Linked DNA regions of Homo sapiens. The protein of the gene in region 1 purifies or fractionates together with the protein of each later gene. This does not show direct contact. Each region holds a gene or a part of one and is shown on either strand. Other genes may lie near its edges.

Region 1 (3,625 bases):
ATTAAGTTACATCAGAAGTTATTATTAGAGTGATGTTTAATCTCACCCTAATGTAACTTCTGATTAGCAAGCTTCCATTCTCTCTGCCAAATATAACTCATGTTAACGTAGAAAAGTGTTATCATTAGTTACCAGAGCAAATCCAGTGTACTGGATTGTGAATGCATAGTCTTTCTAATTAGGAAAATGAGAGTGTGTATTGTCTTCTTAATTTACATTTATAAAATCCTCATAAAATACAGTTAAGTCAGGGTCTTTTAAAAGAGAAGAATTCAACTGAAACCTGTCATTCTCTAGCCGGGCATGGTGGCTCATGCCTGTAATTCCAGCACTTGGGGAGGCTGAGGCAGGTGGATCACTTAAGGCCAGTCTGGCCAACATGGTGAAACTCCATCTCTACCAAAAATACAAAAATTAGCCGGTGTGGTAGTGGGCACCTGTAGTCCCAGCTACTCAGAAGACTGAGGCACGAGAATCACTTGAGCCCGGGAGGCGGAGGTTGCAGTGAGCTGAGATCGCGCCACTATATGGAGCCTGGCAATAGAGCAAGACTCCATCTCAAAAAAAAAAAAAAAAAAGAAACAAAGAAAGAAAAAGAAACCTGTCATTCTCAATTCATCTGAATCCTACCTACAGAACATTAAAGAGACCCGTATGTCTCGAACTCCTGGCCTCAAGCAATCCGCCTGCCTTGGCCTCCCAAAGTGCTGGGATTACAGGTGTGAGCCACGGCGCCTGGCCAAGGAGACCCATATGTTATTTTACTTAGGTGTTACACAATCAGACCAACGATGGTGCTGAGAGCCCTTGATAAATCATAGACCTGAGATTTGCTGACAGTGACCCAGCCGCAGTACTTATTGTTTATGTTAAATCTGAAAGACAAACAATGATACTTTCAGTGATAAATTTCAAATAATTATAAAAATATAACTGTGCAAATAACTCATTATCCATGTTTTAAGATTGATGACTCTCAAAACTCTGATTTTAGCCTGAAAGTTGCGAAATAGTTTCAAATGTCCAAATGTCTACATAAGCCAGCTCAATAGGAAGCTATTATATATAACTTTTTCACATTGCCTCAAAGTTACAGAATATATTTAAATCCCTCACTTTGTGCTAGAAACATTGACAAGGGACTTTTTCTTTAAAATTATTACCTTGGGAGGTTGTGTTCATTAGAACATTCTCATTTGGTGATCATTTTCTTGTGAGTTTCGTAATTTAAAGTCTTATATGTTAACAAAAATTGCATACCTCTAACTAGATACTGGAACTCAATAATCACTGTATAGGTGAGCTTTTTTCCTCAGTCATGTATATAACATGCAACATGCATAACGTTGCTGGCTGTATACATTTTCTATTGTGTTGTATATTAATATTTTTAAAAGAAAAATAATTTTGAAAGGAACATGAAGTATAGCACCAATCTTGATCTAATAATCTTTGGTAGAAAAAAAAGAGGCACCAACTATACAGTCTGTTCATAGTCCAGGGTCAAAATGCAGCACTATTTTTTTTTTTTTTTTTTTTGAGACAGAGTTTTGCTCTTGTTGCCCAGGCTGGAGTGCTATGGTGCAATCTTGGCTCACTGCAACCTCCACCTCCTGGGTTCAAGCAATTCTCCTGCCTCAGCCTCCCGAGTAGCTGGGATTACAGCATGGAGCCACCACGCCCGGCTAATTTTGTATTTTTGGTAGAGATGGGGTTTCTCCATGTTGGTCAGGCTGGTCTCCAACATCTGACCTCAGGTGATTCGCCTGTCTCGGCCTCCCAAAGTGCTGGGATTACAGGCATGAGTCACCGTGCCCGGCCCAGCACTATTAATAACAAACCCTCCATTCCTGAAATAACATTTCAATATAGACTGAATTATGAAAGATACTTTGACTCATTAGGGAAGATCACAGTAGAAAGGTTTTGTGTTTACACATTTAAAATATTTAACAAACTGACTCTTCTAATGACGGATACTGAAAAATATCTAGTAAAGAATAAAAGTCATACATCACAGGCTCCAAAATAGTATTACCAATCTAATTTGAGTTCTAAGTGTTATTTTATATTGGTAGTTCCTATCGCATACATGTTTAGGGACATTGAACTCCAAAATACTCTTTTTATAGCACTCATATTGAAAGGCAAAGCAACTTCTTTGGGTAGACTGGGTTAACTCCTACACTATTGCCACACTCAAGAACAGCATTTTAAAAAACTCCAGTGAGTCAAAAATTCATTGTCCCAGTCCTTGTTCTACTAGGAAGGAGTGTCTCTTACAGGAGTTTAATGTGTAAGTTGTCAGGTTTGGGCACAGCTGTACAATCTGTCATCACTGATCATCTACCCTCTTGCCAATGAAAACAAAACTTTTTCATAATCAAGCTTCCAGTGTAACTTGAAAAGCCACTGGCGAAGCATTCTAAGTGTTCATTAGAATCTGAGTGTGTCTAATTTAGAATCTAAGTGTATCTAGATTCTGAATTTCTTCAGGTTTTTCTTTGTCAGATCCACAGGCCATATTAGTTGTTATTCCTTTTTTGTTACTTTTACATCCGTTTATCAGAACAAAGCACTTAAGAAATTTTACTGATATTTTGACCCCACTAACAATTTGCACCCCCCTTGCTTTTTAATCCCAGAATCACCATTAGCTCCCTTCTGATGAAGCAGGAGTTGACTCAGCTGGGCTTTCAGCTGGACACGGAAAGCGGAGGTAGATGAATTGTCATGATCAAGTGGGTGTCATCAAGTACTTAGAAAGGTTTCATTTTGTTCCTACTGTCTTTCCAACTTACTAATAAAAATATTGAAATCTATTTCAAAAATGAGGTAGCCTCATGTTATTTTATATCTGTCAGGAATATAGTACCATGGGGAATTTTATTTCCCCAGAAAGCAAGATTACACCCCTTTAGTATGGAACACTGAACTTTAAAAGAGGTGTCCTTGAACGTGTGGAAGTGAAGACAAAGTTTACGATTTAAAATTTGATAATTTTAAAAAAGGCAAGCTAAGTAAACTACGTCCTGAGTTTCAAGATTTTTCTGAGTGATTCAAAGATGTCATGAATTTTCCAGGAGTCTTTACTGTCTCAGGAGGAGTCATCTGATAAAATGCACATTGATGGTGGGTCCATAATTGTGGTTCCGACACTTATGCAAGCTTCACACTTAACTGCGAGCATTCGGCTTTGTTCTTGAGAATCGTGACCTATTGTTCTATAGTATATTTATAACACAAAGCATTAATCTCTGCCAACTAATAATAAACAGGTCGTGGCTATGAAATTATAGTGAGCCCAGGGCCTGCTTGTCTACCTTGTTATTATTTGCTCCAGAACCATTCTTAAATTCAGCTCTAGACAGTCTTTTTAGACCAAGCTATCAACAAAAGTCAGCATGTATAGTAGAGCAGAACAAATTTTTTTTTCCTTTTTGTAGACAAGGTCTCATTTTGTCACCCAGGCTGGAGTGCAGTGGTGCAACCACAGCTCACTGCAGACTTGACCTGCTATGCTCAAGCAATCCTCTTGCCTCAGCCTCCTGAGTAGCTGGGACTACAGGCATGTGCCACCAAGCTGGCTAAATTTTTTTTGTAGAGACGAAATCTCACTATGTTG
Region 2 (3,625 bases), on another chromosome or scaffold:
GCTGGCAATAGAGTTGAAGGTGGGCAATGGCTCAAAATGACACAAAGCCAAGACCAGCTAGTGGAGGTGAAGAGGGTAATGGAGGTGAAAGTGGGCCTTTGGATCTGGTAATTCCGGAGCCCTCATAGAGATGAGAAATAAGTCTCAGCCATCCCCAAAATGGTCCTGAGGACTCCCTTCTCCTCATCTACCTAAAGACTTCACCCCACACAGATGGGGCAGGTGGAATAGGAATGAGAGAGAAGATTATAAAAAGGAGGTGGTGAGGAGAGAGAAATGAGGTGGACAGTGAGGAAAGTAGTGAGAGAATAAGGGAAAATGAAGGTGGGAAAGAAGAGGAGCTGGGGAAGGAGGAAGGATGCTGGCAGCAGGGCAGGCCTACCTTGGGCGTCATGTCATGCGTGATGCAGAATTCAAGGTGCTGCAGGATGCTCTCCATGGTGTGGTAGGGCTGCTGCTTGGTGGTCCGAAGGTACTTCTGCATGGCACGGGCCATGGATGCAAAGATGGCTTGGGCTGCCTCCCGGGGGTCCATCACCTCCCTGGGGTTTTTCTGCTCCTCTTCCTGCAGCCGCTTAATGTGAGTGAAGGCCTCCTCCACCGCCACTACAAGCCTAGGGGACAGGAGGGGACTGGGCCAGATGCCCACCTCTCTTTCCCCCACCCCACCCCTCTCCCCTAGCTCCAACACTCCAGCAGCCTGAATGAGGTCAGGCCTTTGTGCTCACCCAAAGTAATACAAAGCCAGAGGCAATAGTGCCTTTCTGCCACTGGGAACAGTAAACAGCCACAGAGTTCAGTGGGCCCAGCCCAGGGACTCAGAGGGCAAACCTAGTGTCAAACCCAGAGAGACAACTAGGAACTATGCTATAGGAAAGACAAAGCATTCCACCAAACTTTAAGGAAAACCTTCTTAAATAAGACCCCCAAATCATACTTCATTGGCTCAACAATTAATAGATATGATTACATCAAAATGACAGATTTCTGTTCAACCATGACAGCATGGGCAACATTAACTGACATCTGATGGAGCTGGGGAAAATATACACATCTAAAACCAACAAGGGATTCAGATCTAGAACATGCAAAGAATTTGCTACAATTTCTATCAAGAAGAAAAAGACAGGAAACCTAGAGAAAAAAGGGCAAAGGAGGTGAACAGAAAATTCACAAGAGGACTGAAAGGCTAAAAGATATACGAAGTAGTTACTGGCTAGCAATTAGAGAGATGCAAATGAAAATGTTAGTAAAATATTACTTTTCCATCAAAATGGAAAAAAGAAAGAAGGTAACTATAAACCAAATATTGGATAGGATGTTGGGAGTATTCCATGAACTACTATGCAGCAAAAAGATGCAACAAACTAGATGTACAGACAACTTGGATGAATCTCAAAAACACAGTGTTAAGGAGGAAGCAGGAAAAAAAAATCCATTTACATTAAAAGCATATAGATGGCCGGGTGTGGTGGCTCATGCCTATAATCCCAGCACTTTGGGAGGGTGAGACAGGTGGATCACCTGAGGTCAGGAGTTCAAGACCAGCCTGGCCAACATGGCAAAACCCCATCTTTACTAAAAATACAAAAATTAGCTGGGCATGCTGGTGTGCATCTGTAATCCCAGCTACTGGGGAGGCTGAGGCAGGAAAATTACTTGAACCCAGGAGGCGGAGGTTGCAGTGAGCTGAGATCATGCCACTGCACTCCAGCCTGGGGGACAGAGCAAGACTCCATCTCAATAAAAAAAAAAAAAAAAGCATACATACAGACACACACACCAACACCAACAAAGATCACTACACTAACACTAACTTTGCACAAGGATACATATAGCTTTTAAGGAAGTCAAACACACTCAACAGGATGCCTAAAATGTGGCGCTGGAGTGAAAGTGGGAACTGGAGGAAAAGAAGAAACAGAATAAAGAACCATGAAAAACTCTATAATGACAATATGTTAGAAGCTGAAAAGAGCAATTAATGCAATTATCTGCACTTCAAGTCCAAAAACCAAAATAAAAGCCCCCTGGCCTAAGAGCAGGACCAGCCTGAAGTGACAGGACAAAGAAAGAAAGTGAGGCCTTCTATGCAGAACCCAGGAACCTGAGTCATTTCAGATGGGACTCTGGGTATATAGGTGTGGATCTGTGTATGTCTATCATTTCTTCCTTTATTCTCTTGCTTCCCCTACATTTCTCAGTAAATTCCCTTTGAAAAGATCCTTTTATCTCAGGTAAACAAAGGAAAAAGTTTGCTCCTGGTTAAAAGCAAGGTAATGGGGAAAGGAAAGAGTCCTCTATGTGCCAAAAATGGTGGTGGCAGTACAGGAGATTGGATGACCCTGGTCAGGGCAGAAGATAAAGGGGTAGGGACATCACTGGTTTCCTTCCCAAGTCTCAGGCCATTTCCAAGACAATTAGAGACAGGTTGGAATGCCACAGAAATGGAGTTGGTGATCTTTGTTCTACTACAGGGGATGCCAGCCTCAAATAGGAACAAGGTAAGGGCTACCTCTTGCCCTTGAAGCCTGGAGTTCATGTGGGAGATGGGGCGGAGGCCAGGTGCGTGGTCAAGTCCTGAGGCACTCTGCTCCTCCCTCAGGGAACTCCCGACAGACCAAGATGGAACCCGGCAGAGTAGGCACCAAGTAAGATTCTTCAGGGTTGACTAAATTCACTTAATAATATGAATAGGGAAAGGGAGAAGCTAGGATGGCATTTAAGAATTTACCAAAATATAGGCAATAAAACGTCATTTTTTGAAGGCAACAAAAGCACCATCTGGTGAGTCCTCTCAAGATCTACTGGCAGGCAGGCTAGTCTAGCCTGAGTCCATGCTGTTGCAGGTAAAGCTCACATCCCTTTATTGGGTCCCTACCCCACTGTGGCAGGCAGAATTCAAAGATACCCTCCACTTCTACCAGACTCCCATCCCCTCATTAGACAACAATCTTGGTACATTTTGCAGATGTAATTAATGTGCCAAGTCAGTGGCCTTAAAAGAAGACTGTCCTTTAGGGCCTGATCTCATCACATGAGCTCTTTAAAATCAGCATTATCTCCAGCTGGTGGCAGAGGTCAGAGACCTGTTTCTGCTGGAAAAAAAAGTGCACTACCATCATGTAAACTGCCTATGGGGCTATGTGACAAGGCACTGAATTCTCCCCATAATAATGAGCTTGAAAGAGAAAGCATAGGCTCAGATGAGAGTCCTCTTGATTTCAGCCTGTGAGGCCTGAGCACAGCCTCCAGCCAGCCTGCACCTGACCCATGGAACTGGGAGATAATAAATGTGTGCTGTTTCACAGCTGCTAAGTTTATGGTAATCTGTTAGGGCAGCAACGGAAAACAAGCACACACCCCCAACTCATGTCATCATTGCCCTATATTTCCAGCAGTTACAGAAGTTCCTTGGTCTTCCTCTCCCCATTCACCCAACAAGCACCTCCTCTCCTCTTCTCCCCCAGGGACCCACCTGGCCCTCCTCTTGCGCACCCTTCGCTCATGCTCAGCCTCCTCATAGTAGTACTCATTGTGACTGTTGTCCCGCCTCCGAGCTGCCGCTGCAATCACAGCCCGAGACTGGCCAGTGGAGTTGTTGGTGCTGTTTTCTGCACAGGAA
Region 3 (3,625 bases), on another chromosome or scaffold:
GTGCTTGTTATAAAACTATGGAGAATTTCAGCTAGATGTTGTATGGGAAGAGGGAGGTAGAAAAGTTAAGGAATCCTCATTATTAAGGCAAAACAAATTTAAGAGTTTTTTTGTTTCTTTGATGGGAAGAAAAGCTTAAAGATTGTTTTTAGTATAATAGTGATACTCATTGACTTATCAGAAGCATTAAATATCAACAGTTATGATACTGCTGTGAGAAAAACTAATTCCATGAAATAATTGCCAAGGATATAACTGGTGAGGCTAATTGTAGCTGTGGTTAATAAGAGAAAGCATAAACCTAGGGCATTGTGAGAGCTCAGAAACAGGAAGATGTTTGCATTAGTGTTATGCAAGTTCAAAATGAGGAATCATTTTTTTTTCTGTATAGAACAATATGTTTGTGTAGCACCCTACCTCTCTACTTTTTCTCTTGTTATTCCTAAACATGTACCTGCCACCTTAATGAAAGGAATTTCTTCCTATGGTTTTTCAAGCATATCTTGCTTATTCTTACCTTAGCTGAGTTTAAATAAAGCCACCTTGGAATTCTGAACAACCAAATGGACTACTTGGATCTCAAGGGATAATTGCATTACTAGTGTTCTCATGATCCTCTTATTTAAATACTGCCCATCCTTTGGTGTCCAGCTCTCAAGTCACCTGTTCATGAAGCTGCCTCAGTTACTCCAGCCCCATGCCTCCTTTGCCTGAGGTCTTTTGAACCTCGACTGACTACCATATTGTTCAGTGTTTCATTATTTCATACTTGGTGTTTTTTCCCTCCAAAGCTTGCATATAAACTCTGAGGAAATGTGAGCTGATTCTATGCTTTATAAATTTTAAAATATCTGGTACAGAGTGGATAAATTGATGCTCCACAAATACTTGGCCATAGGTTGATCAAAATTGAAGGCGTGATTTTTTTTCTCCCCTCTTCAAAATTATGGCGGACCTTAAAGTTTTCATACATTAAATAGCTATGGCTATTTTAATTAAATACTGTTATATTTTTGTTATTATAATACCTATTCAAGAGGCAAGTTCTAATTCCAGTAAAGGAACACTACAAGTCAATAATCTCATTTTCTAAAAGGGGAAACTTGCGTATCACTCAGCTTGCTAAGTAATCTTTGGTTTCTCTAACCTGTAATTTCCTCATCTCTGAAAATGAGAAGTTATGTCTTTAGCCACTTGCCTCTTTCATTTTGTTGGGAGAGTGCACATGGCTGAAGATAGTGATGTTTCTCAGTCTTGGAGAGAGGTGCTATCAGTACTTACTTCATCATTCACTGTGTGCAAGAAGGAACTTGTGAAGACCTGATCAATGTATTATTTAGCAATTTTCATTTTTGATTTACCAGGATGTTGTGAACACATTTCTTTTCTAAAACAGCTTTCTAGTGTGAATCCCAAGAGAATGTATAATTTTGCCTCTTACTATTGGTTTATTTCCAGAGTAGATGATTCAGGGAAACTTTTTTTTTTTTTTTTTTTTTTTGGTGAAGTTTGTCCTGAACTAGATGCTAGCAATTTAGTTTTGTGGTAAAACTTTAAAATGGAAATGTGATGACAAATTAAAGGGTAAGATGGTTCTCTGCTGGTGGGAAGGCGTGGGATTTCCATTCTAATGGCAGGAAATCAACATATGTTAGCACATTTTTTGCAGATCTGCAGTAAATAATGGTAGTGCTTAGATTCGGCTATATTATTCCTGCATTTTAATGGGTTGGATGGAATATCAATGTGTTTATAGAAAATTGCCCAGATCAAAATCCTCGTCTCAGGAATTGGGATCCAGGACAAGATTCTGCAAAGCAAGTTGTTATCAAGGAGGGAGATATGCTCCGTCTGACCTCAGACGCCACCGTGCATTCTATAGTCATTCAGGATGGAGGTAGGTAATGGTTCCTGCCTATGGGAACTGCAAGGTTGCTCTTTAATGTGGGGGATATTTGATGTTCCTTATGTAGAAGACTATTTTTAGGCAGAATAGGCTTTAGTTTGTGGTGTCACTCTAACCATGGAGATTTGGAAAGATCATGAGATAAAACCAGAGAATTTATCCAGAGATAAAAAACATAGAATTTAAGAGCTTAGACCTTAGGTATCACTCAAATCAAGACCCCTGATTTATAGACAAGGAAACAGTTCCAGAGAGGTGATCTCTCAGAGCTAAATTTTTGTCACAATTCTGAGAGTGATTTTGTCACAATTCTGAGAGTTAACATGAGTAAACATATACAAAAATAAGATTCAGATTTGTAGACTCTTAGATATTTTTAAGAGAAATGATTTAACCTCTAAAGTGAGTAGGTTGAAATTCACAGTCATGGGCATTGAGAGTATATTAAGATATGAACTCTTCATTTTTCCCTTTAGTTTTCTAAGCAGATTCTTAGCGAATTCTTTTTTCCGACCTAATTGCGGAAGTGTATTTAACTTAAGGTGAAATCTATTTCCTTGTATCTCAGAAAGATGATTTAGAAGTTGGCTTACAGGGTGGTGTTCCCTGCAGGACTGCTTGTATTTGGGGACAATAAAGATGGATCCAGAAATATTACTTTGAGGACTCATTACATCCTGATCCAGGATGGTGGGGCGCTTCATATTGGAGCAGAAAAATGCCGCTATAAATCCAAAGCGACAATTACCTTGTATGGCAAGTCAGATGAAGGTGAAAGTATGCCAACATTTGGCAAAAAGTTTATTGGTGTGGAAGCTGGCGGGACACTGGAGTTACATGGGGCACGGAAGGCATCGTGGACGTTGTTGGCAAGGACCCTGAATTCCTCAGGCTTGCCCTTTGGGTCCTATACCTTTGAAAAGGACTTTTCCCGGGGCCTCAATGTGAGGGTCATTGACCAAGACACGGCCAAAATTTTGGAAAGTGAGAGATTTGATACCCATGAATACCGCAATGAGAGCAGGCGGCTTCAGGAGTTTCTGAGATTCCAGGATCCAGGTCGGATTGTTGCCATAGCTGTCGGGGATTCAGCCGCTAAAAGTCTCTTACAAGGAACCATCCAGATGATCCAGGAACGGTTGGGAAGTGAACTGATCCAAGGACTGGGCTACAGGTAGGCATACCTTCTTCCCAGATCCCTATCAGAGTCCGTGTCTGTGTGAGAGGAGAGTGAGGGTGGGGAAAGGAGCCACAGCCACAGCATGACTCAGGCATCAGAAGGGCCACTCTACCATTTGCATGTCTGGTAGCTTTGAGACATGGGGCTGGAGGATAGGACACCACATACAAAAGCTATTTTCATTGGCTTTGGTTTACAAAGCCCTTTGTGAACTGGAGTGCCAGACTTGTGAAAAGTTGAGAGCAGAAGTGTGGTACTGAAAAACAGTCAGGCAGTTTAAGGACAATTTGCCTCTGAAGATACTTCTTCCTTTCGTTACCTTCTGAAGATCATATGAAACTCAGGCTAATTGAGGCAACTTAATGAGTTTAAAGGTTAGGGCAGAATTTCATGCTAAGTTCTAAACCTGTCTTAAAAGGCTGAGGGGGTAGAATATGCAGTTTTTCTTTTTCTTTTTCTTTTTTCGGACTCCTTTGCAGGCTGATTGGAATCTGCATGTTTGATTGGCACAGGTCTATGGACCCCTGGCATATATGAGG
Region 4 (2,415 bases), on another chromosome or scaffold:
TCTCTTGAAAGACAAACTGTATTCACTAGTTTGATTTTGAAATGTAGAGATCAAATTTCAATCAACCCAGCAGCTAAGGATGACAGGAAATTTTACAGGACTAGAAGGAATCATCTTCTCTTATCTGGATCTGATCCTCCTCGACACCTTGGGGGTTTCCGAAGGCTGTGTGCTCTCAGTTTTAGCTGGTTGTTACGTAATCAAATATCCCATGCATGTTTTTACATTTGATCAGGTGGGCCTAATCACAAGGACTCATGTTGTCAGTGCCTTTGGGAGCAAAATGAAATAAATCTCTGTCTCAATATTGGAATTTATTCCTTCCTGTTGCTTAGTGGTGTCAAGATACAGTGTCAATGTTACCAGAAGTGCCTAACACAGTCTACTGTGTAGGCTAAAGTCTGCCGTGTTCGTACAGTGACTGAAAAGGAATAATGACTATATCCTCATTTGGGTGAATGTTACTACTTCAGGACCAGATGAGCAGGGGCATCCCATGTAACCATGAAGAATCTTGAAGCAGCATTACAACATCTAATAATAAACAATCTCTCAAACAGTGCCTGTATGAACTGCAAGATGAGGGCAGGTCCAGCTAGACATTGGCTGCATAAATGAAGATCAGAGAAGAATAAGGAGATTCAGACAACTTTTGGCAACCTAGATCACAGTTACTGGTAAATTCTTGTTACAAAGGAAATGGATTTTGGTATACGGAATTTGAATATGTGTTTTACTCAACAGAGTACATGCTACCAACAAGAATGCAGCCCCCTTTTTACAAGTTAGGCAGAAGGAATTATAAAGTCTTGCTGATGTTTACAGTCCTTACATCAATGTGACTGCAGCCCTCCCCAGTCATTCCAAAAGGTCCTTGGGTTGGATACGAGAATGCGTCAGGCCTGGCTTTGGCTATGACATCCCCAGGAAGTCACTGTGTGCAGTGTGGTCTCCAGGGTGGAAGTCTTTGAGCTGCCAATGAATATCTCTTAAGTCCAAACCTCCATGGGCACTATGGCCTCTTTGGTCCCAACAGAAGGCAGTAGGCTTTCTTCAGACAAGAAATAAAAGGGGAATTGCACCAAAAATCCACGGATCTTCTTCAGTTCCTCCTCAGCTCGAATGGGATCTTCCTTAGCTAATACGGGCTTGTTTATAAAGTCTCTCAGCTGAATTAAATTGTGTACTTCATCATTGGGAAGGCACCGGAAAACCTGATTAGAGCATAAATAGAAAAATGAGTGAAAAGTTTAAAAGCGAGCACATGGCCTTTATGGAAAATAATTATTCCAACAGACAAGACCTCTGTTGTATGAAACATATTATTAGTCTTATGTTACAGCACAGACCTGATTTAAGAGTTGGTTATCTTATAACCAACAATAGATAGATCTGCTACAAACAGATAGATCTGCTTCCATTTAAAAAATCATGGTTAGTGGCAAGAAATTACACTAATGTTACCCCACATTAAGGTTAATTTTTTTTGGATAATAATCATCCCTGAATTTCACTGGAGCTTCTGGTCTAAGAGGAATATTGCATATTATATTTTCCCTAACTTTTCTTGAAAGAGGCTCATATCTGTACCTTTACATAGCATTATCAATTGTTAATATGTAACACTTACTTTGCTGGTTGAAAATGAGTTTTGGATATCATAACACTTCACCCCTGAATACTTCTCTGCAGGTATGTCTTAAGAATAAGGACATGTGCCTATATAATCACAGCACTATTCTCACACCTAAGAAAATTAATTATATAATGTCATTTAAGTTATGCTTCATATTCAGATTTATCCTGTTATCCCCAAAATGTCTTTTATAGATGTTTTCCCCCAAATCCAGGACCCAAATAAGGCTGTGCACTGCATTTGTAAAATTACATTTTAATGACTCTATGCACATGACCTATTTGATCATGGCCTTCGGTCCATGAAATAAGGATGAAATAAGGTTATACAGGGGTCAGGCGCATTGGGTCATGCCTGTAATCCTAGCACTTTGAGAGGCCAAGGCAGGCGGATCACTTGAGGTCAGGAGTTCAAGACCAGCCTGTATCATAATACAAAAATTAGCTGGGTGTGCTGGTGGGCACCTGTAGGCCCAGCTACTCGGGAGGCTGAGGCAGGGGAATCACTTGAACCCAGGAGGTAGAAATTGCAGTGAGCCGAGATCATGCCACTGCACTCCAGCCTGGGCAACAGGGTGAGACTCCATGTCAATTAAAAAAAAAAAAAAAAGGAAAGAAAGAAAAGAAACAAGGTTATACAGACAGTAGACATGTTTCATTAAGAATAATAAGTTTCTCTGCTGGAAGGGGCTCTAAGAGAAAAATTGCGTATTTTCCCTAATTTTTTTTTTTAAAGAGGTTCACGTCTGTCCCTGGAAGTCATGAAGAAGAACACAGACT
Region 5 (3,625 bases), on another chromosome or scaffold:
AAATAATGGAAGAAATAAAACTGTATTTTTAACAGACAGCCTGATTTATGTAGAAAAATCTCAAGACTTGGCCAAAAACAAAAACAAAAACAAAAACAAAAAAATCCCTAGAATGAATAAGTGATTAAAGCAAGTTGCAGGATACAAAGTTAATAAGCAAAAATCAATTATTTGACAGGAATGAACAATTGAGCAACTGGAATTTGAAATTAAAAATATAATACCATTGGCCAGGTGTGGTGGCTCACATCTGTAATCCCAGCACTTTGGGAGGCCGAAGCTGGTGGATCATTTGAGGTCAGGTGTTTGAGACCAGCCTGGCCAACTTGGTGACCCGTCTCTACTAAAAATACAAAAATTAGCCAGGCGTGGTGGCGCATGCCCGTAATCCCAGCTACTCGGGAGGCTGAGGTAGGAGAATTGCTTGAACCCAGGAGGCAGAGGTTGCAATGAGCTGAGATTGTACCACTGCACTCCAGCCTGGGCAACACAGCGAGACTCTGTCTCAAAAAAAAAAAAAAAATGTCAATTTTTCCCAACTTGATCTCTAGATTCAATGCAATCCCAGTCAAAATCCCGGAAAGCCATTTTGCAGATATCAACAGATTCTCAAATTTGTATGGAAAGAAAAAACCCAGATAGCTAACACTATACTGAAGAAAGGCAACAAAAATGAGGGACTAACACTACCTGACTTCCAGACTTACTACTAAAATACAATAATCAAGATAGTGTGGTACTGGGGAAAGAAGAGGGAGATCAATGAAACTGAATAGGGCAGGGTGTGGTGGCTCACACCTATAATCCCAACACTTTGGGAGGCTGAGACGGGGGAGATCACTCGAGCTCAGAAGTTCCAGACCAGCCTGGGCTACACGGCGAAACTCTATCTCTACAAAAATACAAAAATTGGCTGGGAGCGGTGGCGCGAGCCTGTAGCACAAGCTACTCGGAAAGCTGAGATGGTAGGATTGCCAGGGCCCAGGAGGCAGAGGCTGCAGTGAGCCAAGATTGTGTCACTGTACTCCAGCCTGTATTAAAAGAAAAAAAGAAAAAGAAAAGAAACTGAATAGAAAGCCCAGAAATGGACCCACACAAATATATTCAACTGATCTTTGACAAAGAAGCAAAGGCAATTCAATGGAGAAAGGACAGTCTTTTCAACAAATGATGCTGGAACAATTAGGTGTTCATATGCAAAAAAAAAAAAAATACATATAGAATATAGACACAAACCTTACACTTTTCACAAAAATTAAAGTAAACTGCATCATAGACCTAAATGTCAATGGTAAAACTATAAACCTTCTAGATGATAACACAGGAGAAAATCTAGGTAGCCTTGGGTTTGGTGATGAGCTTTAGGACACAATGTTAAGAGCATGATCCATGAAAGAAAAATGTAGTAAGTTCGACTTTTTAAAATTAAGAACTTCTGCTCTACAAAAGACATTGTTAAGAGAATGAAAAGACAAGCCACAGACTGTGAGAAAATATCTGTGAGACATCTATCTGATAAAGGCTTGTATCCAGAATGTACAAAGGACTCTTAAAACACAACAATTTAAAAAATGAGCCCAGTTAAAAAATAGGCAAACAATCTGAACAAACATCTCATCAAAGAAGACATACAATTCCCAGTACTTTGGGAGGCCGAGACACGCAGATCATTTGAGCCCAGGAGTTCAAGACCAGCCTGGGCAACACAGCAAAACCCTATCTCTACAAAAAATACAAAAATTAGCCAGGCATGGTGATGTGCACCTGTAGTCCTAGCTACTTGGGAGGCTGAAGCCTGGGAGAATCACCTGAGCCTGGGAAGTGAGCTGTAATCACACCACTGCACTCCAGCCTGGACAACCAATGAACACACAAAAAAAGAAGACATACGAATGGCAAGTAAGAATATGAAAAGATGTCCAACATTATATCATTAGGGAACTGCTAATTAAAACAACAAATGAGATACCACTATATACTTATTAAAATGGCTAAAATCTGGGCTGGGTATGGTGGTTCATGCCTGTAATCCCAGTACTTTGGGAAGCTGAGGTGGGCAGATCATCTGAGGTCAGGAGTTCAAGACCAGCCTGGCCAACATGGTGAGACCCCATCTCTACTAAAAATACAAAAATTAGCCAGGCGTGGTGGCGGGCACCTGTAATCCTAGTTACCTGGGAGGCTAAGGCAGGAGAATCGCTTAAACCTGGGAGGTGGAGGTTGCAGTAAGCCAAGGTCACACCACTGCACTCCGGCCTGGGCAACAGAGCAAGACTGTCTCAAAAAAAAAATCTCAAAAAAAAAAAAAAAAGGAATTGCCAAAAAGCACTGTACTCTAGTAGATAAAGTTGTTTCTTATCGGAGTACAGGTTAATAATTAATTCAATAAACAGAGGATGGTGGGTACAGGTTTCTCACTGTTGGAGTGGGAGTTTACAGATGAGCAAGAGAAGGAAACTAGAATGATCTATGTGGTGATGGACTAAAGTTGGAGACATCAGTAAGAACAAATGTTTAATGTAATATAGGTACAGATGGTTACACATAGAAATATTTGTAGATATGTGTATATGCAGAGGTTAGTATGCATACATGTATTTCTTTGCTCTGTTGGCTGAGAGGGTCTAGAATCAATGATACCTCAGCAGCAAAAAGTACACTTACTGTCCAGGTCTTGGTTTCTAAGATCACTTTCCAATAAAAGGAACCAAGGTTTCTTGGAGTATTGGTTGGTTCTAGGACTAGAACCAGGAAATATACAAGAGAGGAAATATACAAGATGAGTCTGGAGCATCTTATAGTGCCAAAATGTAAAAAGTGCTTAAAATCAAACAAAATTCTTGATATGAATTTGCCAAAAATTAAATAAAACAAAAAATAAAATAATAAAACAAAACAAAATCTTACAATGATTGGGGTATGTCAATGTGACACAAGAGCCAAGTGAATGAGCTCCCCGTGGCCAAAGCTGGAAAAATTTGAGAAAAAATAAAGTAGTATTGCATTATAACACAAAGTATAAAATAAATATCCTTGAGTCCTTATTGATATCAATGATTGAATAAAGTCATAAATGGGAGAAAAGAGATAAATCTCCCATGCAGAAGAATTCTTAAAAAAATTATGTAGATACTCCACCTCCAAGGAGGAAGAACATAAGTAACCCCCAACCTTAAGTGTGGGCTGCACAGAGTGACTTCCTTTCAAAGAGTACAGTATGAAAATAGGAGGAAGAGTAACTTTTCAGTAGAGAAACCAGACAAACACTACTTCAACTAGATGGTCAAGGTCAACATCAACAGTCATAAGTCATGTGATTTGATGTGATGAAAATGGCAGTTTACCTCTGCGATGTTCCTCCAAAAACCCATAACCCCAAGTCCAATTATGAGGAAAACAGCAGACAAATCCTAACTTAGTGACATCCTGCAATATACCTGACCAATACCCTCACCAAACTGTCAAGGACATCAAAAATAAGGTCTAAGAAATTGTCACAGCAAAAAGGAGCCTAAGAACATATAACAATTAAATGCAATGTGGTATTCTGACGGGATCCTGGAGCAGGAAAAGGACATTAGGTAAAAACTAAGGAAATATGAATAAATTACACACTTTCATTATA
Region 6 (2,533 bases), on another chromosome or scaffold:
GCACGTGCCACTCGGCCGCGTCAGTGCCTCCTTCAGGCCTTCTCATGAGCACAGCCGTCCCGGTCCCAACAGGCCTCAGAAGCAGGCCTCTGCGACCTTCCACCCCACAGCTTCTCTTCCTCAGACTGTGGCCCTCTCCTTTGACAGGGGCTCCCAGAGGTGTCCCTCCACAGGCCAAGGCCTGGGGCTCCTCCCTGAGTCAGTCTGCCCTGGGGCCCTGCCCTCACGTTCCCCACACGTGTTGGGGGTCTCGATGGGGCAGATACCCTGCCTTCCTGCCAGGCACCGTGGCTCTCCCAGCTCCCCACACAGTCCTCGCCCGGAACGTCTCTCTCCCTAGGGATGGCCCCTGACGTAGAAGCAGCTCATGGCTTGGGAGGGGATCCTGAGGTCAGCGAGGGCCAGGCCTGTCCTCCCAGTGGCTGAGGACTGTTCCTGTGGAGCCCCATCCTCAGGAGGTGGCAGCTCAGAGTGCCCAGTCCTGAGGCCCCTCGCCAGGCCCTTACCTGAGCCGATGCGGGCCCGAGACATGGTGGGTGAGTCCAGCTTGTGGGCTGGCACCGTCAGGTAGTTGTTGATCTGACAGAGAGGACAGACGGGGTGAGCACAGGCAGCTGGGCAGAGGGAGCCCCTCAGGACAGAACCCGGCCAGTGCACACCCCACCTTTCGTATATGCAGGGCGCTTGCTCCCCCTCCCTTGTGCCTGTGTGGGCACCCGTACTGGCCCCTCAGGAGCTCCTAAGGGCTCATCCCAGGCTCCTGTCACAGCCTCCCTGAATACACCTACACTGCTCAGCCTTAAATCCACCCATTCCTCTGTCCCCTGCCACTGCCCTAACCCAGGCCATGCCCCACAACCCCACGCCAATCCCTTGCTTAGAACTCATGGCTCTCCATGCCCTTACACTGCTAAAAGCCCCTCGAAAGCCAAACCCTGTTCCTAGAATGGGTACATTTCCTTAGAGGCTGTGGCGGAGCTTGGGCGAGTGGGGTGGGATACAGATTCCCAGAGGAAGGCAGAGGCTACCTTCTGCTCCAGCTGCCGGGCCTTCTGCCTCCGGAGCAGCATCTGGTTCCAGGCTTCCTCGTAGGGGTCTGCCACCAGCGTGTGTCTGTTGTAGGACCGCAGCTGTGGGAGGGACAGCGTCAGGGCAGTGCGGGCCCCGGAAGGCTCTGCTCATGGAGGGGTGGGGGCAGTGCTGGAGGCCGGGCCAGTCCTGGGGTGGGTGCCGAGGGGCACGGGCAGGGCAGGGCTGCCGTAGAGAGGGGCTGAAGGGCTCCTGTACCCTGGGGGTCGGGCTGGGGAGCAGGCCCTCACCCGCTGCCTGGTCTTCTGCAAGTTGTTCCTCAGGATTTTGCGGATCTCCTCCTCCTTGTCCTTGGACAGTGCTGGCAGGATGCGCTCGGAAGGCAGGGACTTGGGGTGGATGTTCCTGGGGCAATAGGGCATCGGTTAGGTCCCCAAGATTCTTGGGATCCTGGTGCCTCCCAGGTTTGGCCAGAAGGAAGTCACCCTAGGGATGACCCAGGTGGGCGCCAAAGCCTCAGGTCCTTGGTGCGAGCCCACAGCTCTCTTGTCCGCCCCAACAGGACAACAGAAGACCCCGCCCCCCAGGTGGCCACCTCCAACCGGGCTTGAGGGGCCGGTGTGTGGGAGCAGAAGCTGCCTGGTTGCCCCAGCACTCACTGCATGGAGACGGTGGAGACGGCAGAGGGGATCTTGCCCATGCCCCCGCTCTCCACCAGCTCGATGGCCTGCTTCATCTCCATCTTGTGGTAGAAGGCAATGAGCTGGGGCTCCTTGGAGCGCTCGCCAGCTATCAGACACTTCTTCACATATTTCTTATTAAACCGGTTGAGCCTGGTGGGAGGAGGAGGGAGACGGATGGCGCCAGCTTCCAGGAGTGGGGAGATGCCCAGGCCCAGGAGACCCTTGCCTGCCCCTCCCTGCCTGCCCACCAGGCCTGCCACCTACTTGTCCTTCCAGTGGTGGTGACCGTAGTGGCCACAGATGTCTTCGATGCCTGTCAGAAGGTGGTCCAGGAACTGAAAGGGGCCCAGGGCCAAGTCAAGCCTCGCTGTGGGGCGCCTTCCCTACCAAGACCTCTGACTAGCCCCACTCCCTCCCGTAGCTGCAGCCCTGCTGGGTCCAGCCCTGTGGTTCCATGAGCAGCCAGGAGGTGGCGCCCACACTCCACTCATCGAACCCAGCGGCCCTGACTCTGGGTATCTCGAAGCCTTGCCTGTGTCCGGCTGAGCCCCCTTCTCTAATCCCACCTGGGACCTATGCCTGGGATAGGTTTCAAATGGAGGCAGAGATGGCATGATGCCCCCTCCTCAGGCTCCCAGCTGCTCACACCACACCTTCCTATGGCTAGACCCTGGCGGCCTCCTGGGGCAGAGGGAGCCCCTGGGCACTGGCACAGGGAGAAGGGGCTGATGGGGGGCAGAGACTTGAGGCCCAGCTGCTCCCTATCTCCCTGTTCCTCCTTCTGCAACCAAGGGCCCAGCCCGCACTCCAGTACCTGTGTG
Region 7 (3,625 bases), on another chromosome or scaffold:
GAAGACCAAATATTTGGTGAGAAGCGGGGGTCTGCTTTAGGTTTGCATCCCACTCTCATCAGTTTTGTGATCTCAGGCAAGCTTCTGCTTAGTTGTGTATGCGTCAGTATCTTCATCAGAAAATGGGGTAATAATCTCTATCTTGCAGTACTAGAGTAAGGGAATTCCAGCCACAGCAAACCTTTGTTCTATTAAACACCAGGCATAAATTGGGCACCGAAGTCAGACACCAAGGATACAGGTGCGTGCGCGCTTGCGCACGTGTGTGTGTGTGTGTGTGTGTGTGTGTGTGTGTGTGTACATGTGCATGGATGCAGGCATGCAAGCAAGCATACAGCTTCTGTCCTCCCAGAGCTCACAGGCAGTAGGAGGGTGTCAGTTGACAAATTGTTATGTAAATGATTAATTAGTTGCAAGTACAGGGTACTAGGAAATATTTTGTCGGTTGAGTAAGAGACTCGAGGGAGTAAAGCCTGTAAGGAGCTTAGGACCACATCTGGAAGCAGCCAACATGGACGTGGTATGGCGGTGCCTTCTGCTGCTGCTGCTGCTGGTGCTGTTTTTCTCTCTCTTCTCTCCCACTTCCTTCATTCCCCAGGATGTCGAATGTTCATGATAGACCTAGTATTAGAGAACATGCAAGAAAAGGGATGGAGAAAGACACAGGGTTCTCCCAGTGTGGTGGTCGGTCATAACCAGAGCTCCCTCTGTCCTCAGTTGCTGGAATTCCAGATGGCCTGTGACTGCCCTGAGAATGACAATCCCTAAGGAATGGAGTAGGTAGAGTGGAGTAGGTAGAGATGGCTGCCTCTGGCAGGTGCCAGGCCCGCAGCTGGATGGGTCTCAGGGCATGGTAGCCCCGGGGCCCTTCAGTCTCTGTGCCAGGATGTAAGATGGCTGCTTCCTCTTCCAGCTCATTCCAGCCCTGAGTGGCAAGGTCAACACTGCTAAGGGGAGGCTAGCAGATGGCGCCATCTACCTGGCTTATGTTTTGGGGGCTTTTGGTGACCGTGACAACTGACGTGGTGGTGTTTCTTCCACTTGGGGAGCATGGTAAGGGCAGAGCAGCTGCCTAGGTAACTGGGCTCAGACCTGCAGAAAAGGCAAAACCCCAGTGGCTCTCCCTCATTCAGAGCCTCCGAGCCAAGAGGCATCATTTGCAGCCACTGGGCGCCCAGCAGTGTCCTGAGTGCAGCAAGCAGGGAGAATGCGAGAGTGTACTATACCTCCCAGGCCTCGTGCAGACCTCTGATGGCGAGTACTTTGTCATTCCTTCCACAGGCCTTTGTTGAAACCTCACCTTGTGGCAGGCCCCACATTGAGTGTTCAGTGCTTCCTTTGTTCATTTAGCAAATAGTCATGGACCTGGGCCCGTAGTGCCAACGTCCCATGCACCCCCTCTCCTTGCAGCTTAGGTACTTCTTTGCTTCCTCCCAAAGCGCCTTCCCCTTCTCTCCCCTCCACCAGAGTTAACTAGGACTTATCTTTTGGGTCCCAGCTGAAATGTCACTTCTTTTTTTTTTTTTGATGGAGTTTTGCTCTTATTGCCCAGGCTAGAGTGCAATGGTGTGATCTTGGCTCACTGCAACCTCCGCCTCCCGGGTTCAAGCAATTCTCCTGCCTCAGCCTCCCGAGTAGCTGGGATTACAGGCGTGCGCCACCAGCCCAGCTTATTTTTGTATTTTTAGTAGAGACGGAGTTTCACCATGTTGGCCAGGCTGGTCTCGAACTCCTGACCTCAGGTGATCCACCTACCTCAGTCTCCCAAAGTTTTGGGATTACAGGTGTGAGCCACTGCACCTGGCCTGAAATGTCACTTCTAAGGATACCTGCTCTGACTCCCCAGTCCAGGGCAAGTCCCCTGATTGGGCATCCAGAGCCCCAGGCCCCTTCTCCTGCAAGACACTGGTCCCAGTTACGCGACAGGCGCTTATGGGCCCTGTAGGTGGATCTGTCTCCCTCCGGAGCCAGTACGCTCCATGTGGTCAAGGACCTTGTCCGGCTCGCTCACCAAGGACCCCCAGTGCTCAGCAGGGACTGAGTGAGCAGGTCCAGGGAGGTGATACCAAACAAGACAGCCTGGTTTTGCCCTCATGGACCTGGCCATCCATCAAGGATGCTGAATCATCAAAGCCACATCGTACCAAGTGTTCATTGCTGTGGTAGATCGGGCCTGTGGGGGGACTCAGCAGGCACACCCTGGTGGGTTAAGCATGGCTTCCCAGAGGAAGTAACTTTGACACTGGGACCATAGGTATCAGCTACGTGAAAGGAGAGTTCAAAGATCATGTGGGCTGGAGTGGCCAGGAGATACTTCCTGGAGGAAGGACATGGAGTGTATTTGGGTAGGGGAGGGGAGAAGGCAGTATTTAAATTAGAAAGTGCAGTAATTAGTTGAATTTGGATGGTCCTGGTTGAAAGAGAACAGACTGGGCAAAGGTCTGAAGGTGACCTGTGCCGAGGGCCTTTTGCCAGGACAGTGAATGATGAGGCCAGGCTGGCTGGAGTAGGGGGGCAGTGGGGACCAAGTAGGCCAGAAAGCTGGCTGTAATTCCGGTGGGCTTGAAAAGAGTTGCTTTCCAAGAGTGGGGACTCTCTGCCAGCAGTGCTCCCTCTGGTTCCAGTTTCCCAGGCAAGAGAGGCTGCTGGGCTCTTAAAGATCTTGAAGCAAATGAAGGCAAAGGAAGGCCATGCCCGGGGCCCAGGCATCCTGGCTTTTGTGCCTTCCCTCGAGGGTGCCATGCTGCCAGTGGGACAGCTGACACAATGAGCCTTGTTGTGGGAGACCCAGGCCGGGGAGCACAGGCCCGGAGCTGGGAGCCAGGGCAGATGAGGTAGGAGAAGGTAATGATTATAACAACAACATAATAACGGTTGTCTTTATTGAGCAATGACTACATGCCAGACACCGTTCTAAGCCCTTTTGATATTATTCCATGGAATCTTCACACCGTGCTGGGGATGAGGTATTGTGCTGCTTCTATTTTAGAGGAAAAGTGACTGAGGCACAGAGAGGTGGAGACACTTGCCCAAGTTTGTCTCCTCGTGAGCAGCAAGGCTGAAATGTGAGCTATGCCTGCCTGAATCCACAGCCCATCCACACACAGTCCCCAGTAGACAGTGGTGCCACAGTTGAACTCAGAACTGGCTGATTCCAAAGCCCAGTGTGCCCTGTGGCTTCCCGCTGGATTTCCTGAGCAGTCTGGAAGGTTTACAAATGGGCACAGAGGGAGGCTCCCAGAAGCTGGGACAATGCTGGGCCCCAGAACTCCAGAACCCTCTAAGTCAGGGGTGTCCAATCTTTTAGCTTCCCTGGGCCACACTGGAAAAGGAACTGTCTTGGGCGACACGTAAAATACACCAACACTAACAACAGCAGATGAGCTAAAAAAAAAAAAAAGTCCATAAATGTCATAATGTTTTAAGAAAGTTTACAAATTTGTGTTGGGCTGCATTCAAAGCTGTCCTGGGCCACATGCAGCCCATGGACCACAGGTTGGACAAGCTTGCTCTAAGAGATGTGAGGGATTCCACGAGACCAGGTTCCAGTCTAGTTTACACAGCTCCCTCTGTTTGACCTTGAGTTTCCTCCTCTATAAGATGGGGTCAGCCGGGCGCGGTGGCT

Evidence for each region.
Region 2: the proteins of SLC16A10 (region 1) and VANGL2 purify together in Homo sapiens (affinity purification with mass spectrometry; one large-scale study listed by BioGRID and IntAct). This does not show direct contact.
Region 3: the proteins of SLC16A10 (region 1) and CEMIP2 purify together in Homo sapiens (affinity purification with mass spectrometry; one large-scale study listed by BioGRID and IntAct). This does not show direct contact.
Region 4: the proteins of SLC16A10 (region 1) and PLD1 purify together in Homo sapiens (affinity purification with mass spectrometry; one large-scale study listed by BioGRID and IntAct). This does not show direct contact.
Region 5: the proteins of SLC16A10 (region 1) and NCR3LG1 purify together in Homo sapiens (affinity purification with mass spectrometry; one large-scale study listed by BioGRID and IntAct). This does not show direct contact.
Region 6: the proteins of SLC16A10 (region 1) and SLC9A1 purify together in Homo sapiens (affinity purification with mass spectrometry; one large-scale study listed by BioGRID and IntAct). This does not show direct contact.
Region 7: the proteins of SLC16A10 (region 1) and ZER1 purify together in Homo sapiens (affinity purification with mass spectrometry; one large-scale study listed by BioGRID and IntAct). This does not show direct contact.

Annotation. Positions count from the first base shown.
Region 1 is NC_000006.12:111,226,944-111,230,568, reverse strand, and holds part of SLC16A10 (monocarboxylate transporter 10), read right to left. Parts: 3' UTR 1-3,625. UniProt on the Homo sapiens protein: Sodium- and proton-independent thyroid hormones and aromatic acids transporter.
Region 2 is NC_000001.11:160,421,041-160,424,665, reverse strand, and holds part of VANGL2 (vang-like protein 2), read right to left. Parts: intron 3,615-3,625; coding exon 3,479-3,614; intron 615-3,478; coding exon 383-614; intron 1-382. UniProt on the Homo sapiens protein: Involved in the control of early morphogenesis and patterning of both axial midline structures and the development of neural plate. Plays a role in the regulation of planar cell polarity, particularly in the orientation of stereociliary bundles in the cochlea.
Region 3 is NC_000009.12:71,744,473-71,748,097, reverse strand, and holds part of CEMIP2 (cell surface hyaluronidase CEMIP2), read left to right. Parts: intron 1-1,502; exon of another isoform or gene 1,503-1,756; coding exon 1,757-1,897; intron 1,898-2,474; exon of another isoform or gene 2,475-2,518; coding exon 2,519-3,080; intron 3,081-3,625. UniProt on the Homo sapiens protein: Cell surface hyaluronidase that mediates the initial cleavage of extracellular high-molecular-weight hyaluronan into intermediate-size hyaluronan of approximately 10-5 kDa fragments.
Region 4 is NC_000003.12:171,602,089-171,604,503, forward strand, and holds part of PLD1 (phospholipase D1), read right to left. Parts: intron 1,215-2,415; coding exon 990-1,214; 3' UTR 1-989. UniProt on the Homo sapiens protein: Function as phospholipase selective for phosphatidylcholine. Implicated as a critical step in numerous cellular pathways, including signal transduction, membrane trafficking, and the regulation of mitosis.
Region 5 is NC_000011.10:17,358,188-17,361,812, reverse strand, and holds part of NCR3LG1 (natural cytotoxicity triggering receptor 3 ligand 1 precursor), read right to left. Parts: intron 1-3,625. UniProt on the Homo sapiens protein: Triggers NCR3-dependent natural killer cell activation.
Region 6 is NC_000001.11:27,100,697-27,103,229, forward strand, and holds part of SLC9A1 (sodium/hydrogen exchanger 1), read right to left. Parts: coding exon 2,527-2,533; intron 2,048-2,526; coding exon 1,977-2,047; intron 1,863-1,976; coding exon 1,689-1,862; intron 1,435-1,688; coding exon 1,320-1,434; intron 1,131-1,319; coding exon 1,029-1,130; intron 580-1,028; coding exon 507-579; intron 1-506. UniProt on the Homo sapiens protein: Electroneutral Na(+) /H(+) antiporter that extrudes Na(+) in exchange for external protons driven by the inward sodium ion chemical gradient, protecting cells from acidification that occurs from metabolism.
Region 7 is NC_000009.12:128,761,887-128,765,511, reverse strand, and holds part of ZER1 (protein zer-1 homolog), read left to right. Parts: intron 1-3,625. UniProt on the Homo sapiens protein: Serves as substrate adapter subunit in the E3 ubiquitin ligase complex ZYG11B-CUL2-Elongin BC. Acts to target substrates bearing N-terminal degrons for proteasomal degradation with the first four residues of substrates being the key recognition elements.